Regions from separate parts of the Homo sapiens genome. Here regions 2 and 3 are each linked to region 1. A link means that fine-mapping ties the variant in region 1 to the plasma level of a protein whose gene starts in the linked region. Region 1 holds a variant in brackets. A gene starts in each other region. All regions are shown on their reverse strands.

Region 1 (5,201 bases):
ATTAGCTGGGCGTGGTGGAGCGTCCCTGTAGTCCCAGCTACTGGGGAGGTTGAGGCAGGAGAATCGCTTGAACCTGGGAGGTGGAGGTTGCTGTGAGCTGAGATCGTGCCACTGCACTCCAGCCTGGCGACAGAGTGAGACTCCATCTCAAAAAAAACAAAACAAAACAAACAAACAAAAATCCTGAAGCATCTACCATCCTAAAGGCGTGAACAGGTTTCTAACTCCTCAACGTACCAGGGAGGGCTCAGCAGCAGTGAGAAATCTTACAGTGTGGGGCAGCTTCTGTGCTGAGGGTGCGTGGTTATGAATATTGCAACATGATATGTCTCACCCAGAAAACCCACCATGCAGTCCCAGGCTGAATCTTCATCCCTGTCTCAGGGTTCTAACTCGAGTTGACTCTACTTCAAAGGAAGGAAAGCTTGTTTGGTCAAATACCCGTGGAGCGTCGGTTTCAGGAATGTGACATGCTGTTAAACCACAGCCGTGTATGCTTGCGGCCGCTGAGATTTTTCAAGGATGAAAGTTTCACTTTTCAAAGAAAAACATGGCACCATGTAAGCTGGAGAAACATAAGGTAAATGGTGTCAATTGGCCCCAAGAAGTATTTCTTCCAGAGAACACCTACTACATGTACATTCCAGGGGAGGCTGGAGAGGTATGTGAAAATGGACTAAATGTATAAGATTAGAACAATGAGACACAGTTCCTGCCTCCCAGCACATTTCAGGAGGTGGAGACAAAGGACAGCTGGGATGGGTAGAGGACAATGTCAGTGCATGGGATTATGGGGACCCGGGGAGGACTGGGGAAGGAAGCAGGATGTGACCCCAGAGGCCAGGTCAAGCGAATGGTCAGCATGGGCAGGTTGGGGGAACTAGGGGTGGTTGGAGCAGACACAGGACCTGGAGCAGGAAACACCAAGTCACAGGGCAGGGGAGAGGTCCCTGGGCAGTCAACACAGGGCACTTGGTGCCTTTCTGAGGTCACATATCTGGGCTCCCACTTCCACATCTGCCTCTGAGGTTTGGGAGAATGATCACCAAAGACTGCTGAATGCCTCTGGAATAGGACGTGGGGATGTCCCATCTCCACAGCCCCAGGCATTTCAAAGTGGGTATCTGAGGAACTGAATTAATACAGAATCACATTTCGGAGATTCACAACTGTTTAATTTTGGAAGGGGGATGGGGGGTCATCTAACCCAAGCTCACCCTCCATGTCTTGATCTCTGTGGCGGCTTAGGTATCCAGCTTTGTATTTGGCTGCCTCTGTTGACAGAGAGCTCACTCTCTCCCTCTCACAAGGTAGCCTGTTTCATCACCAAAGGGCTGGAGTTGTCTCAGAATGTTTTCCTTACATGGCGCCAGCATCTCTCTCCTACTTTACCCTCCTAAGAGCATGCTCTGTCCCTCAGAACGGGTCTGAACCTGTGTTTACTACAGCAGCCCTTTGACTGTCTAAAGGAGCCACCGCAACCTCCCTATACGTCCCTCGTTCCTCCCTAGGTGCTTTTGTGCGGTGGCTCCCGCACCTGGTTGCGGTCATCCGAAGGCTGATTAGTTTGCCCGCGTTCTTTGGAAACTGTGCTCCCTGCTCCCTCAAAACTGACAGCGATTTTCCAGGTAGAGTGAAAGCAACATAAGCCACACGTGGGCAGTGTGGGGGCAATGCTGGAAACCTGGGCCGCTGACCCCATAGACCACCAAGGGTTGGCGGCTGCTTCAGGAACTGAAAGACGCGCAGGTCAGCCCAGCCTGGGATGACCCCTTCCAGAGGGGCCAGGCAGCCTTGACCAGACCTGGTGCTAAGTACTTGCTAAGCCCTGGGTGGCCTGTAGCTTCTCACTGTCCGGGGTAAAAGCAAGCCCTGGGCCAGAGTCTTGTACACTGGAATTCGTGGACACTGGTGGGGAAAACCACTGGCCTCTGAGCCTGGCATAGAAGGGAGAAGCCCGCCCCCTTGTGGATCTCTGGAGAGTAACAGGGTGCAAAAAGCACTGAAACCCCAACCGGAGACAGGGAGTCTCGGGGAGCAGCCACCTCCTCTCAGCGCTCCCATTTCACCAACCACCTCTGGGGACCTGCAAGAGAATTGATCTGTGCTGGCACGGGAGTGGTAGCAGGGGACATAAAAGGAAGCTAGGAAGTTGAGACCCCTGGATTATGTCTGGCAACAGCGAGTTAGAAATCGGGCAAGTGTTATTAGCTGTTTAAAAAAAGAAAGAAAAAAAATGGCATCTGGAGGTCTTTCCTGGTTCTGCCACTCCCTGTGTGGCCCCAGGAAAACTACAGTCTGTCTCTGGGCCTCCAAGGACCTTGCTAGGTAAAGGCTCCAATCCCTCTGAATGCTGAAGCCTCAGGCTTTCACATCTCAGTCCTGACAGTGGTCTGTGGTTGGTGGCAACACAGTCCTGATTGAAGAGAACATGGGAGGCAGCAAGGGCCAAGGGCATTGCGCAAGGGGAAGCAGAGGGCACCAGCTTGGTCGCCCACCCGCAGCAGCCCTGGACAGCACAGCACCCCTAT[C/T]GCTACACCATGCTGCTAGGAGCCCGAAGGGTCATTTTCCAGAGTGAGTCCAAGAGGGGTCATGTCCCCTCCTTCCACAGTTTTGGCCAAATCTACATCATTTCTCCATCACGTGGACACCAGCCCAGAGGTGACTGTGCCATAAAACATACTTGACCCAGAGAGATGTGACCCAGGCCCATTGTCCAAGACAGCAGCCTTGCTCACATGCTTCCAGACTGCCTTTCCTCTGCACAAAGCACATGATCAAAGATTGTGTTTTTAACGTATTTTCAAGATGAATTCTTTGCTACTCTGTAACTGATCAGGATAATTGGGCTAAATCTAGCCCTGGGAAATGCAAACCAGAAGCACTTTCCTCGAAGCTCCCCAGATTAAAAAATGAATGATATGTTAAGATGGCTCAGATTTCCGACTGCACTACATTCGCAGAGAAACAGAGCCACTAAGTCAGCGAAGATAGTGTTTTAAAGGCCAGCTGTCCTCCAGAAGAATGAAAAGTATTAAAACTCTTTTAGATGGGGCACAGTGGCTCATGCCTGTAATCCCAGCACTTTGGGAGGCCAAGGCGGATGAATCACTTGAGGTCAGGAGTTCGAGACCAGCCTGGCCAATGTGGTAGAACCCCATCTCTACCCAAAATACAAAAATTAGCCAGGCATGGTGCCATGCGCCTGTAGTGTCAGCTACTCAAGTGGCTGAGGCACAAGAATCACTTGAACCCGGAAGGTGGAGGTTGCAGTGAGCTGAGATTGTACCACTACACTCCAGCCTGGGCTACAGGGCAAGGCTGTTTCAAAAAAAAAAAAAAAGCTGTTTTAAAATGGCTTTGTGCCGGGTGCAGTGGCTCACGCCTGTAATCCCAGCACTCTGGGAGGCCAAGGTGGGTGGATCACCTGAGGTCAGGGGTTCAAGACCACCCTGGCCAACATGGTGGAACCCCTATCTCTACCAAAAATATAAAAATTAGCCGGGCATGGTGGTGTGCATATATAATCCCAGCTACTCGGGAGGCTGAGGCAGGTGAATCGCTTGAACCCAGGAGGCGGAGGTTGCAGTGAGCCAAGATTGTGCCACTACACTCCAGCCTGGGTGACACAGTGAGACTCTGTCTCAAAAAATAAATAAAATAAAATTTAAAAATGCCTTTGTAGAAATTATCTGAAATAATTATGCCCTCAGTCTAGCATGCTCCTAGCTGGAAATGTCCAGGAAAAATGTTAGGGGTAGAAGAGTCATCTCTGCACACTATAGTACACTAAAGCTTTGGCTGAAACTACATAGCCTGAAATGTCTCATTTTTTAACGGCATTATGAGTTATTACATAAACATCCTTTAAAATTCAGAGCAGTCCAACAATAAGAACAACCCAAGTTCTACCTAAAAAACTATAGTCAGGTAGAATATGTAACTGTAGACAGAACACTTTTCAAACACCTATTTAGACCACCTGGTTTCTGCAGTATTGCCAAATTCTAAAATTGTAATGAAAAATGTAAAGTTTGAAACCTACAAGTCATCAGAGGTTCAGTGAGCAGATTGTGCCATTCCAAAACCAAAAATGTGCTTGCATAAGCAAGTCACTGGGGCTAACCTTTCTGGATTGAGAGTCTGGCCTTCAGTTCAGACTGTGGCTATGCCAGGGTCAGAAATGTGACAAAACTGCGCTTTCACGGAGGTTAGCCAAGGTTCACAGGGTCATGACTGGGCCATTTTATCAGTCATGTCAGGCTCACACCCTATTGCCTGGGATAGATAAAAACTTTATCTGTCAGTCTGCTAAATCTGCTCCTCCTGCCTCATTTTGAATAAAGAAAACCTGGGCTCAGCTTATCTTAACCAGAGATGCGCCTTTCCTAATACTGTTTCCATATGCAACTTCTAAGTAAAGGTGACACGCCAATGATTTCTGGTCTCATTTTAGTCAAGAGCTGTCCATAACTGGAGTGACTGGCTTTGTCTTATCTAAAACCGTAACTTCAGAGAACAGTTCTGGCACTATTGGACAACACAGATTTATTATGTTTATGACATGTTAGATAAGCTGGAGAGGTTAGAGTGACAGTTCTCAGTGTTACCTTTTCAGGTTCATCTTTCCCTAAAGTACAGCAAACCAAAAAAAAATTAAATTAACTTGGATCAATTTTCCAAATAGGGAATCTAAGTGACTGTAGAAGAATTTACAGAGATACGTCTGGAATAACACACACAGACATATATTTTCTAATAACTGTTAACATAAAAAACAGCTAAGATTTCTTCTCACAGAAAACAGATGCAAAGATGACAAATAAGTCCAGGTAGGCATTGTAAAATCTGGTTAAATACACTAAGAAAATACTAAACTGGTGAGTTTTACCCAACAGGAATCTTAAAATACCAGAAAAGTACCTTCAAATTTTACTTTATTTGGAAATGATACAAATTCATTATTTTAATATTTAAAGATTGTGGTAGTATAGTCAAAACACATAAATATTATAATATACATTTAGAAATTAAATATAAAGTCAACACAACACTCCTTAAAAACTCATATGTACACTTCCAATAAGTCTCAGGTTTGAACATTCAAGCTCATCAGATTTCCCCATGGAAATGGGTGAATCTTGCAGGGAGATTGTCCACAGGATACACGGTGGGACTGGTTTTCATTGTAGGAGGTCCAT
Region 2 (5,222 bases), not on the chromosome of region 1:
ATCCATGGGTGTGAGGGGCGTCAGATTAAAACAAAACAAAACAAAAAACTCTGCAATTTCTTTCTTTAGCTAACGTGTTGTTTTCCACATATTGAAGTAACTTTAAAGTTCCAGTCTTCTAGCAAGGAGGAGAGCGTTTGCTAATTTCCAAGCATTTGCACTGTTCCACTCACACTCGCTGGGTACAGATTCAAATGGTGGCTGGGCAGCATTAGCAGTGAGTCCACTGTGGCAGAAGCAGCAAAGTCCCTGTCCATCCAGAGATCAGGCCTGAGATCTTAGCAACTTCTGCTCACAGACTGGTGGCTCCAGATGTGGCTACAGGACCTAAACCATGATCTCATGTCTGTATCCAGATCCTATAGGAGCCAAGGCTCTGGAATGAGCAGTGAATGGACAAAAGTTTCCACTGGGCCTGGGCACAATTTCCTCAGGCATCTTCTCAGAAAGAGAGCTCTGCCCACCCTACATTTCAAACCACAGAGCAGCACTGGACTGGAAAACCAGAAGCCACGGGATGATTTGAAATCATTTGTTCTATTTTCCCTCCTTCGGGAGTCAGCTGCAGCCTATAAACTGGGGACAAAGCAGTACTTAGAGTTGTATGAAAGAATGCCAGGTGCCTTCTTCCCTTCTCTCCTGGAAAAATGATACCAGTATTGATACTCTATTTTTTCCTGTGTCTGACACTGTCACCTTGATTCTGAGTCTGCAACAAATGTCTGAATGTCAAGAGGCCAGCTGCCAATACGTAGCCCTGACCGAGCAAGGTATCATCTGATGCCTTGGTGACACCTCAGCTTTTCCAAGAACCAGTGGATTTTAGGCACTGTGGCTAACCTGTGTCCCAATGTGGGCAGTTTGTTACTTTTATGTTGGAACTTGTTCTTTTTTTTAATGCTTATATAAGCAACACAGGTTTCATGCTTTTAAGTGAAGCCCTGCCTGTTCTCATTCATTCTTTCTCCATCCTTCCCCCAGATCTCTCCCAAGCACAAAAATTAATAAATAAGTAAAAAGTAAGACCTCCAAAAACTAGTTTTTTTTGTTTGTTTGCTTTGTTTTGTTTTTGTTTTTTAGATGGAGTTTTGCTCTTGTTGCCCAGGCTGGAGTGCAATGGTTCAATCTCGGCTCACCGCAACCTCCACCTCCCAGGTTCAAGCAATTCTCCTGCCTCAGCCTCCCAAGTAGCTGGGATTATAGGCATGCGCCACCACGCCCGGCTAATTTTTTGTATTTTTAGTAGAGACGGAGTTTCTCCATGTTGGTCAGGCTGGTCTCGAACTCTCGACCTCAGGTGATCCACCTGCCTCAGCCTCTCAAAGTGCTGGGATTACAGGCATGAGCCACCATGCCCGGCCAACCACATCATTTTTTTAGATGTCTTGAAATGTTTTCTTTGAGGTATTGTGAGGGTAATAGTATGGGGATTTCGAGAGAAGTTGTCGTCTTAACAAATAATAATTAAAACCTGTAAAATTAAATGTCTGGAGATACTTCAAAGCTGTTCAAATGTGTTTGCAAACATCCCCTTAACTGATTCACACAAAATCCAGACAAAGGGAAAGTTATCATAGCTTCCTAATCATAACTAAAATAACAATTCTGTTTTAGGATTTAAAAGAATAATGAAATACAACAATACTAAATTATCCAAAAAAAGACAGAGAGAGAGAAAGCTTTGACATTGTAAGTAAGTTAAAAAGAAAAAAAAATGAGAAGGAACATCTTAAAGGAAACATTTTATACAAAAATGTGTTACGCCAGGTAGAAGCTGATACAACACAGACGCATCTGTGTTGCAGGAAAGAGGATAACTATGCTTAGCCCTGTCTGAGACTGGAGTATAATACTAAGGATGCAGTACACGGGTCCTGAGAGGTACTTCCCAATTCATTTTAACTCTTCATGGAGGTGATAGGAGACTAATTACACTGCCCGGATTTTCAGGCTCGGGAACGGAGGCACCTGAGCCACCACTTTTGAGCTCATCTGCATTGGCCACCTCCCTCCCTCCAGTAAGTAAAGCTTGGGCAACTGGCACTCTTACCTGGGAGGCTGCTGGGTGCCTCTTCCAATGCTGCTGCTCCTGTGAGCCGGTCTCCTCCTGCCGCAGACCTTGGTACTTGCTGGTCGTCCCTGGTTCTCGTCTCTCCTTGGCTTCCCTTCCTGGGTTTAAATCCTGTCTAGGCCAGAGGAGGAGCAAATGGAGACTCCTGGTGTTTTCCTCCCTTCCTAGCAGGGACTCTGCTAAAAGATAATGAGCAATTCCTTCTCTTATTCTAACTAGGAAAGAAAAATATATACATTTCCTTCTTCTTTTTCACTTTGATTACACAGCAGCTAAAAATACTGGAGGCTGTTTCCATTTAAGTGAATCCAGAATAAGGATATTAAAAGAGTTTGCCTGTCTCCTGGCCAGGAGCTGGGTCTCGGGGTTCAAAAGTGCATTTATAAAGTTTCTTTCTCTTTTTCCTGTTTCAGGCATTCTGGGACTTCCTGCCTACTGCTTTTAAAATGGGAAAAAGCCTTTAGCACAGAAAGAAATGAGCAGAGACCCTCAGGGACAGAAGCTCTTCTGACTTCCCTCCTCCTTCATCCATCGTCTCACACTTGTGAGTGGCAGGACTCTGAAGTGGGGGCAGGAATAACAGACTGGGGACATTCGGTCCCACAAGCCCACTCTGACCCTCACCCCATCCCAAATGCCTCCCACACGCCAACAGTACAAGAGCTCCAAAATCAGGAAAGAATAGTCGTGCCCCTTTCTGGCTGCCCTTCCTCTTTTGCCCTCAGATGGACAGGCCTTCATCCTTCCTATGAACCAGAGTCATTTCAATAGGGCATGGGCTGACACCTGCCACCCTTCCTTACACCCCATCCCTCTCCTGCTCTGTGGGAAGTAGATTCTGGAGTGCAGATCCACAACAAAATGAAGGAGACCATATGTTTCCAGTTCACCTATGTCAGCATCAAATGCTGCTGGAGGGAAAGGAGAAGGAGAGACGGGGGACCAAAAAGTGGCCCCCAGAAATTGGAGGGGGGTTCCCAGAGGCAGCTTGCCTGGATCTGAAGCTTGTGTCTGCTACTTGCAAATGACCTTTGACAACTTCTTTGTGGCTCAGCTTACTCGTCTGTAAAATAGGAATAGTGTCTTATGGTTATTGTGAGGTTCAAATGAGTAGATGGGGTAAAGAACTTAGACTAGTCCCAAGACACAATGAGGACTTGGTAAAGATTACCTGCTACCATGATTATTATAACTTTTTAATTCTCCTTATGTATCCCACTAAATCATATTTGATCCTCTCCACCTCAGTCCAGGTAGGTTCATAGTTCTCTGCCCTTCACTTACAACCACAAATAATCCTGCTATCTGGCCCTGGAATCTGGGCCAGCCATATACAGAGGTGACCAGTGCAGTAGGAACCAGGGTCACCAGAAAATTTCCCAACTCCCAAACATCTCTTTTCTCCCTTGGACTATTTTCTCTGCTTCTTAAAAGGGAAAATCTCTCCCAGAGGATCCTAAGACTCTATTGCGCCCTCAAGTTGCTCTCCTATTCTTAATTTCCTTTCACTAACTCTCCCCAAATGAGTGGTCTTCACCAACTCTCTCCGTGACCCCATTTTCCATGCCCTCAATAGGAATAACTAAACCAGTGCACCAGGCTCCTAAGAAGCCACCTTCCTCCAATCTCTCCTTATTACAGCTGGTATTAGTTAGTTGCAGGACATGGAGCTGTAGCAAAGAGACCCTCCAATGCAGTGACTTAACAACATAGATGATTTCTCCCCAAACAGTAGAAGACAGTGGCCCAGGGCTGGTAGGGCAGTGCCACCATCCACAGCACACACCCACCACTCTCTAGGGTCATCATCTCCCAGCCAACAGGAAGGGTAAAGGGATGAGGGCAGATGGAAGTGCGTGCTCATTCCTTACAAACACAAAAACAAAAACTTTTTATTTTATAATTATTTCAGACTTGCAGAAAAATTGCAAAAATATTAAAAGAATCCCTGTATACCCTTCACTCATATTCTCCAAGTGTTAACATTTTGTCATATTTGCCAATCATTCATTCTCTCTTAATAGTTTTCCCTGAAAACATTTGAGAGCAAATTAAAGACATGATTTATCTCTTTACCCATTTATGTCTAAAAACTTTAGTATAGGGTGTTTCCCAACAACAAGGGCATACTCTCTCATAACCTCAATACAATGATCAAAATCAGAAATTGACATTGACATAATACTATTGTCTAATTTACAGACGATATTCAAATTCCATTGATTGTTTCTCTAATGTCTTTTATAGCAAAAGAAAAATAATTTACAGACCCAGGATTCAATTCAGGATAATTAATTGCATTTAGTTGTCCTGTCTTTAAAATTTCCTTAAGTTGGAATAGTTCTTCAATCTTTATCTTTCATGACCTTAACATTTTTGAAGAGAAAACGTCAGTTATTTTAAAGAATGTCCTCAGTTTGCATTTGTGTGGTATTTTTTCATGCCTAGATTTAGGCCATACGTTTTTGGCAGGCAGCGGCAGAAGCGGCGTGTCTTTGGTCCATCACATCAGGAGACACTTGATGGCAGTCTGTCCCAGTGTTGGTGATGTTACCTTGGACCACTTGGTTAGGGTGATATCTGCCAGGTTTCTCCACAGTAAATATTTGCCCTTTTTTATTTAACAGGTATATTGTGGGATGATGTTTTTAAACCATGTAAATATTCTGCTTCTTTTTATATTTTCACTCACTAGTTTTAACACCCATTGTTGATTCTTGCCTGGAACAATTACTACTATGCTGGCTGCCAAATGGCGATTTTCCTAATTTCATCTTTCTTTTTATGTTTACTAGATAGAATTCTATTATAAAAAGTAATTTTTCTTCCCCCACCTTTATTTTATTAATCACCTTATATTCAAAGTGACTCATATTCTTTTTTTCATTCTATGGGTTATATTCCTGTACTATCATTATTTTGTTGCTCAAATTGCCCCAGATTTGGCCAGGGTGAACCCTTCAGGCTGGTTACTGTGTGCTTTTAACACACTTCCATCATTCTTTGAGTGTTTCCTTACTTTTGGCACAGCAAGATATTCCAGACTGATCTTGCACTTCTCCTACCCAGTCCTTTAGAAGCAGCCATTTCTCCAAATATCTTTATTTCTTTCTATTGGAGAATGATGCACATTTTGGATAACGCTAGAAAA
Region 3 (5,222 bases), not on the chromosome of region 1:
CTGGTCTTGAACTCCTGACCTCAGGTGATCCGCCCGCCTCGGCCTCCCAAAGTGCTGGGATTAGTGGTGTGAGCCACCTTGCCCGGCCCCTCATAGGTGGTTTTAAACCATGAGAAGCTCTCAGAACAGCTCCGGGCACACGGCATATGTGGTGCTGCTTATAATGACCTTTACATGACCCTGTCAGTGAGGCCCCATTCACAGGTGGGTACACAGAGGCTGAGAAGGGAAAGGCAACTGCCCTAAGCTACATCTTCCGGGAGAAACAGCTGCTGGGAAGAGTTTAGCCTCATCAAGGCTTCCATAGCTGATAAAACAGAAACCTGCAGGAATGAAGGAGCAACAGCGGCTCCCTTGTCCTGGCTTGTGCCCTGGGCTTAGAAATCTCCAAAGCCCACCCTGAAAACCTCTCTGGGTGGCTGTCCCCAGCCTGCCCAATGCAGATGCCTCTTGGAGGGGTAAACTGCCGGTGTGAAGCAGGGCTGCCCTCCCTCCCTAGCACGCTGGACTTCTGCTCACACCTTCCCTCTCTCAGACTGGGGGTCCCCTCCCCTCCCTGGGGTCCTCGGGGGGCTGAGGTGCTGGGGGGTGCCATTCTCGCTCACCACTGAGGAGCAGCCAGCTGTACCCAGTCAGCGCCATCTTTCACCCCAAACCGAGTCTTGGAGATGGTGGCGTTGAAGTCCCAGTGCTCGGACTCCCTTCCTGGTTGGGGCTCGGCTCCGTCTGCCGCAGGACCTGGGAGGGTTTGGTGATTTGGAGCCAGGGGAGATCACCTGAATTTGGAGGGATCGAGTCACCAAGGATCTGGGGCCCGGTTTGGGTACCAGGGTGGGTGTGGCGGGCACCGGCCAGAGGCCGTGACCTGGGCAGGCCTCCTGGGGCAGCCGCCTAACCCTCTTTGTGCCGAGGGCCTGGATTTGGTACTGGGAGAGGAACCAGGTCACCGAGGAGAAGAGAGGAAAAGTAGGGGAAGGTTTTCGGGTAGTTCTTACCAACCACCCAGGCCCGTGGCCTCCTCAGAGAGCCTGGGAGTCACCAAGGAAGAAAATCAGTAAAAGGTGACTGCACCTTTCCCAGCCCCACCCAGTGCAGGGGACCTACAGGTGTTGTCTCAGCGGATGGCAAAACAACCCTGTAAAGTGGGCACCTTTAGGACCCCCCTTTGCAGATGGAGATGAGCTAGGTGGGGACTCCCACTTGTCCGGGTTCCTGCAGGGAGAGGGGATTTGAGCCCTGCTCTGTGTGCAAACCCAGACAGAAGGGCAGGAAACTGTATGGCCACATGCTTTCTTTGGGGCTCTCCTTCTTGTTGGCTTCCTGCAAAGTGCTCAGAAGTTCACATTCTCTTTCTCCCACTTCGGAGGCCTTGTTTTCCCCTCTCTGTCAAATGGGCGTATTCGGAGGCTTTGGGGCCAAGGAGAGCTGAGTTTTGACACCAGCTCTGCACTTACCCAAAGTGGGGCTGGGGACAGTCCCTTGTTGAGTCTCCATTTATTATTCTGATAAATAGAGATGATGGCCGGGTGCACTGGCTCATGCCTGTCATCCCAGCACTTCGGGAGGCCAAGGCAGGCGGATCATTTGAGGTCAGGAGTTCGAGATCAGCCTGGCCAACATGGCGAAACCCCATCTCTACTAAAAATAATAATAATAAAAATAGCCAGGCGTGGTGGCAGGTGCCTGTAGTCCCAGCACTTTGGGAGGCTGAGATGGGCAGATCACCTGAGGTGAGGAGTTTGCAACCAGCCTGACCAACATGGCGAAACCCCGTCTCTATTAAAAATATAAGTTAGCTGGGTGTGGTGGCTAACGCCTGTAATCCCAACACTTTGGGAGGCCAAGGCAGGTGGCTCACGAGGTCAGGAGTTCGAGACCAGCCTGGCCAATATGGTGAAACCTCGTATGTACTAAAAATATAAAAAATTAGCTGGGTGTGGTGGTGTGCACCTGTAGTCCCAGCTACTCGAGAGGCTGAGGCAGGAGAATCTCTTGAACCCAGGAGGTGGAGGTTGCAGCGAGCTGAGATCACACCACTGCACTCCAGCCTGGGTGACAGAGTGAGACTCTATCTCAAAAAACAAAAGCAAAAACAAAAAATAAAAGTTAGCCGGTCATGGTGGCACATGCCTGTAATCCCAGCTACTAGGGAGGCTGAGGTAGGAGAATCGCTTGAATCCAGGAGGTAGAGGTTGCAGTGAGCCGAGATCCTGCCACTGCACTCCAGCCTGGGTGACAGAGCAAGACTCCATTTCAAAAACAAACAAAAAAATAGAGATGATATGGACCCTACTTCAGGTTTGTTGACAGCAGTTAGTGAGAGGCTACAAGTCAGGGATTTAAGCCAGAGCCTGGTGGACGTGGGTCTGATTGGTATGCCTGTTATTAAAAGTATAGGCTCTGGCCGGGCGTGGTGGCTCATGGCCGGACGCAGTGGCTCATGCCTGTAGTCCTAGCACTTTGGGAGGCCGAGGTGGGTGGATCAACTGAGGTCAGGAGTTCAAGACCAGCCTGGCCAGCATGGTGAAACCCTGTCTCTACTAAAAATACAAAAATTAGCTGGGTGTGGTCGCGGGCACCTGTAATCCCAGCTACTTGGGAGGCTGAAGCAGGAGAATTGCTTGAACCCTGGGCAAAAGAGTGAAACTCCATCTCAAAAAAAAAAAAGTATAGGCTCTGGACATAGTTCCACTGTTTCCTACCTCCAGGACCCTGGGCAATTTATGGACTCTGCCAAGCCTCAGTTTCCTTATTTGTAAAATAGGGAAAACAATAGTACTCACATCACAGGGCTGTTGAAAGGATTAAGTAGATACACATGTGAAGTACAGTACTTACCACGACTGGCGCAGAGTAAATGCTCAGTAAATCACTCATTCACTTATTGGACAAATACTGAATGAGCACCTATTGTTTGCCAGGTGCTGTTCTAGGCGCTGAGGATGCAGCCGTGCACAAGACGGATGAAATCCCTGCCCTCAGGGGGCCGACATTTGCGGAGTAAATAAAGGAAAGGTAAATATCTTCCACGTCAGATTGAAAAATAAAGTCAGAAAGGGGATTTGCCATTTTATTTTTTGTAGAGATGGGATCTCGCTATGTTGCTCTGCCTGGTCTCAAACTCTTGGCCTCAAGTGATCTTCCCACCTTGGCCTCCCAAAGTGCTGGGATTACAGCCATGAGCCACTGCCCCTGGCCTGGTTTGCTACTTTAAATTGGGGTGGAGGGAGGGTAACAGGGAAGGTGTCTCTGAGATGATGCTGGGCAGGAGCCGAGGGGGTTGTGGTGCCAGAGCTGCTGATAGCTGTGTTCTTATGACCTGCATCCTGATGGCTTCTGAGTCCTGGTTCCTCTGAGGCCTCTGCAGCCTGCTTCCGGGCAGGGGGCCACACCTGTGCTCACCTGTCCTGGTTTGCCTCCAGCACTGTGTCCTGGGCTGCCCTCGTGGGGCAGGGCTCTAACAAGGGGGAGAAGGCCCTGAGGAGGTGCGGGTGAGGCCAGGTGAGAGGCACAGAGGATGTCCTGGCGCCTCCTGCTCCCCTCTCCCCACCTGTGACCTCACCTCACTCTTCTGCGTCCTGGCCCAGAGCACTGGGACCTCATCCCAGTATCAATCAGGATGCCTCCCTGATGTCCCTGGGCACCTCTCACTCACCTTGTCCCAAACTGACCTTGGCATCTTCCCCCAGAAGTGTATCTTCCCCTGGTGCCCTTATCAGGGAAGGCGCCACTACCCACCTCATCGCTGGGAAAAGAGACCTGGGGCCTCATCCCTGATGCCTCCCCCTACTCCCCGAACACGCCACCCCTTCTGGCAACTGACTCTACGTATATCTTCTCTCCCTCCCTGAAGCCCCTGCCCTGGTCTAGGTGACCACTCCACCACCCCACCTTGCCTGGGTCCTCCTGTCTCCCCACCAGCCTCCTCCCTAGTCTCTGGCCCTGGTCTCCCCGACTCCCATTGCCCCTCCACATGGCAGACAGAGGCTCTTTCCAAAACAAAAACCTGCCTCTGCCCCTCCGTGCTCAGAACCTGCTGTGGCTCCCCAGTGCCCTTGGGAGGAAGCCCAGGTTCCTCACTGTAGCCCAGGAGGCCCTGCCCGGCCTGACTCCTGCCCACCTGACCAGCTACATAGAATACCACTTGCTTCCGGGAACCCTCTGCTTCAGTTCTTCTGTTTCACTTGCACTCTACCCAGAATATCCCTGCTTCCCTCTGCTCTATTCCACTGCCTTCCCCAAACCCTCTCCTCCAGGAAGCCCTCCTGGACTTCAGGGCCTGGAATTCCCTGTCTCAGCCCTGACTGCCTTGGGTTCTCGCTGTCTGGGGCTGGGTCTTTTTCCCCCACTGGCCTGGGAGCCTCAGCTGGGCACGGCTGGGCTGTCACCACTGTGTCCCCAGCACTGCCCAGCAAATCACCTGGCACAGAGCAGAGGCTCACAGCATGTTTGTGGAACTGGACACCAGGTGTGGATGACACAGAGAGAGGAGTCTTCAGAGAGGCTCAGGTTCCTGGTGATCTGCTGTCTGCCTGCGGAGTGTGACCAGGCCGGGCTCTAGAGGCCCTCTATCGTCACATCCACCCTTCCTAGTCTGCCCCCATCCTCCACCTCCCTGGCCCCTCCTCTGGTGCTCCCGGCTGTGAGCCCAGATCCTTGGTTCAGTCAAGAGCTGCAGGCTCTTTAGCACCTGCTGTGCGCCGCCGGGCTGCGCAGAAAGCAGACGGGGTTCTTGTGGGCAGGGGCTTTTTCCTGTTTGTGCAGTGGGTGGGGGGTGTTCATGACATTGACTTCCCTGGGACTCTTCTGAGGATCAAAATAGGCACATGGAGTGTTCCGTGCCGGGCCTGCCTCAGAGCACGTACTGGGGGCACAGTGGTCGTTGTTCCTCCACCATTTGACAAATGTTTATGGAGCACCAACTATGTGCCGGGCACTGCGCTAGGCGCTGTGGGGTTACAGCCGTGAATACGGTAGACACAGAGCTGACCTATTGATTGGGGAGACAGTTAATAGACGAATACAAACATGAGCAGTGTTAGAACAGGTGGGGACAATGCTGTGGAGAAAAATAAAGCAGGGGAAGGGATGGAGGTGGTCGGGGCACTGGTTTATGCAGGGCAGCAAGGCGACATTGTCAGAGCGACATTGGAGTAGAGGTTCAATAAGGGGGGCCGGGCGCGGTGGCTCACACCTGTAATCCCAGCATTTTGGGAGGCTGA

Which allele goes with the higher level. Alleles are on the strand shown, and positions count from the first base shown. The strength of an association depends on the size of the effect and on how common the allele is.
For the plasma level of the protein whose gene starts at base 2,153 in region 2, allele T in region 1 goes with a lower level than allele C (weak association).
As copies of C replace T in region 1, the plasma level of the protein whose gene starts at base 2,948 in region 3 goes up (weak association).

Evidence for each region. A credible set is the group of variants that fine-mapping cannot tell apart. PIP is the chance, under the fine-mapping model, that this variant and not a neighbour inherited with it causes the effect. Protein levels are from antibody-based Olink assays in UK Biobank. Linkage for the fine-mapping came from a reference panel and not from the study's own genotypes, which makes the PIPs less certain.
Region 2: TNN starts here. The variant in region 1 is the best candidate, but not a certain one, in a credible set for the plasma level of the TNN protein (UK Biobank, PIP 0.58).
Region 3: CEACAM16 starts here. The variant in region 1 is the best candidate, but not a certain one, in a credible set for the plasma level of the CEACAM16 protein (UK Biobank, PIP 0.51).

The regions. Positions count from the first base shown.
Region 1 is chr10:93,077,216-93,082,416 of GRCh38, reverse strand. CYP26A1 (cytochrome P450 family 26 subfamily A member 1) reads right to left here. Exons shown (of 7, transcript NM_000783.4): 7 at 4,532-5,201. The coding sequence ends at 5,113. Among named protein-coding and RNA genes, the nearest start is that of CYP26A1, 5.9 kb to the right of the region's middle. The variant C/T (reference allele first, on the strand shown) is at 2,532.
Region 2 is chr1:175,064,764-175,069,985 of GRCh38, reverse strand. It overlaps TNN (tenascin N), which reads right to left and starts at 2,153. Exons shown (of 19, transcript NM_022093.2): 1 at 2,051-2,153. RefSeq lists an enhancer at 1,633-2,832.
Region 3 is chr19:44,696,877-44,702,098 of GRCh38, reverse strand. CEACAM16 (CEA cell adhesion molecule 16, tectorial membrane component) reads right to left here and starts at 2,948. Exons shown (of 7, transcript NM_001039213.4): 1 at 2,839-2,948; 2 at 606-738. The coding sequence starts at 642. CEACAM16-AS1 (CEACAM16, CEACAM19 and PVR antisense RNA 1) reads left to right here. Exons shown (of 2, transcript NR_186815.1): 2 at 2,922-3,061. RefSeq lists an enhancer at 4,776-5,222.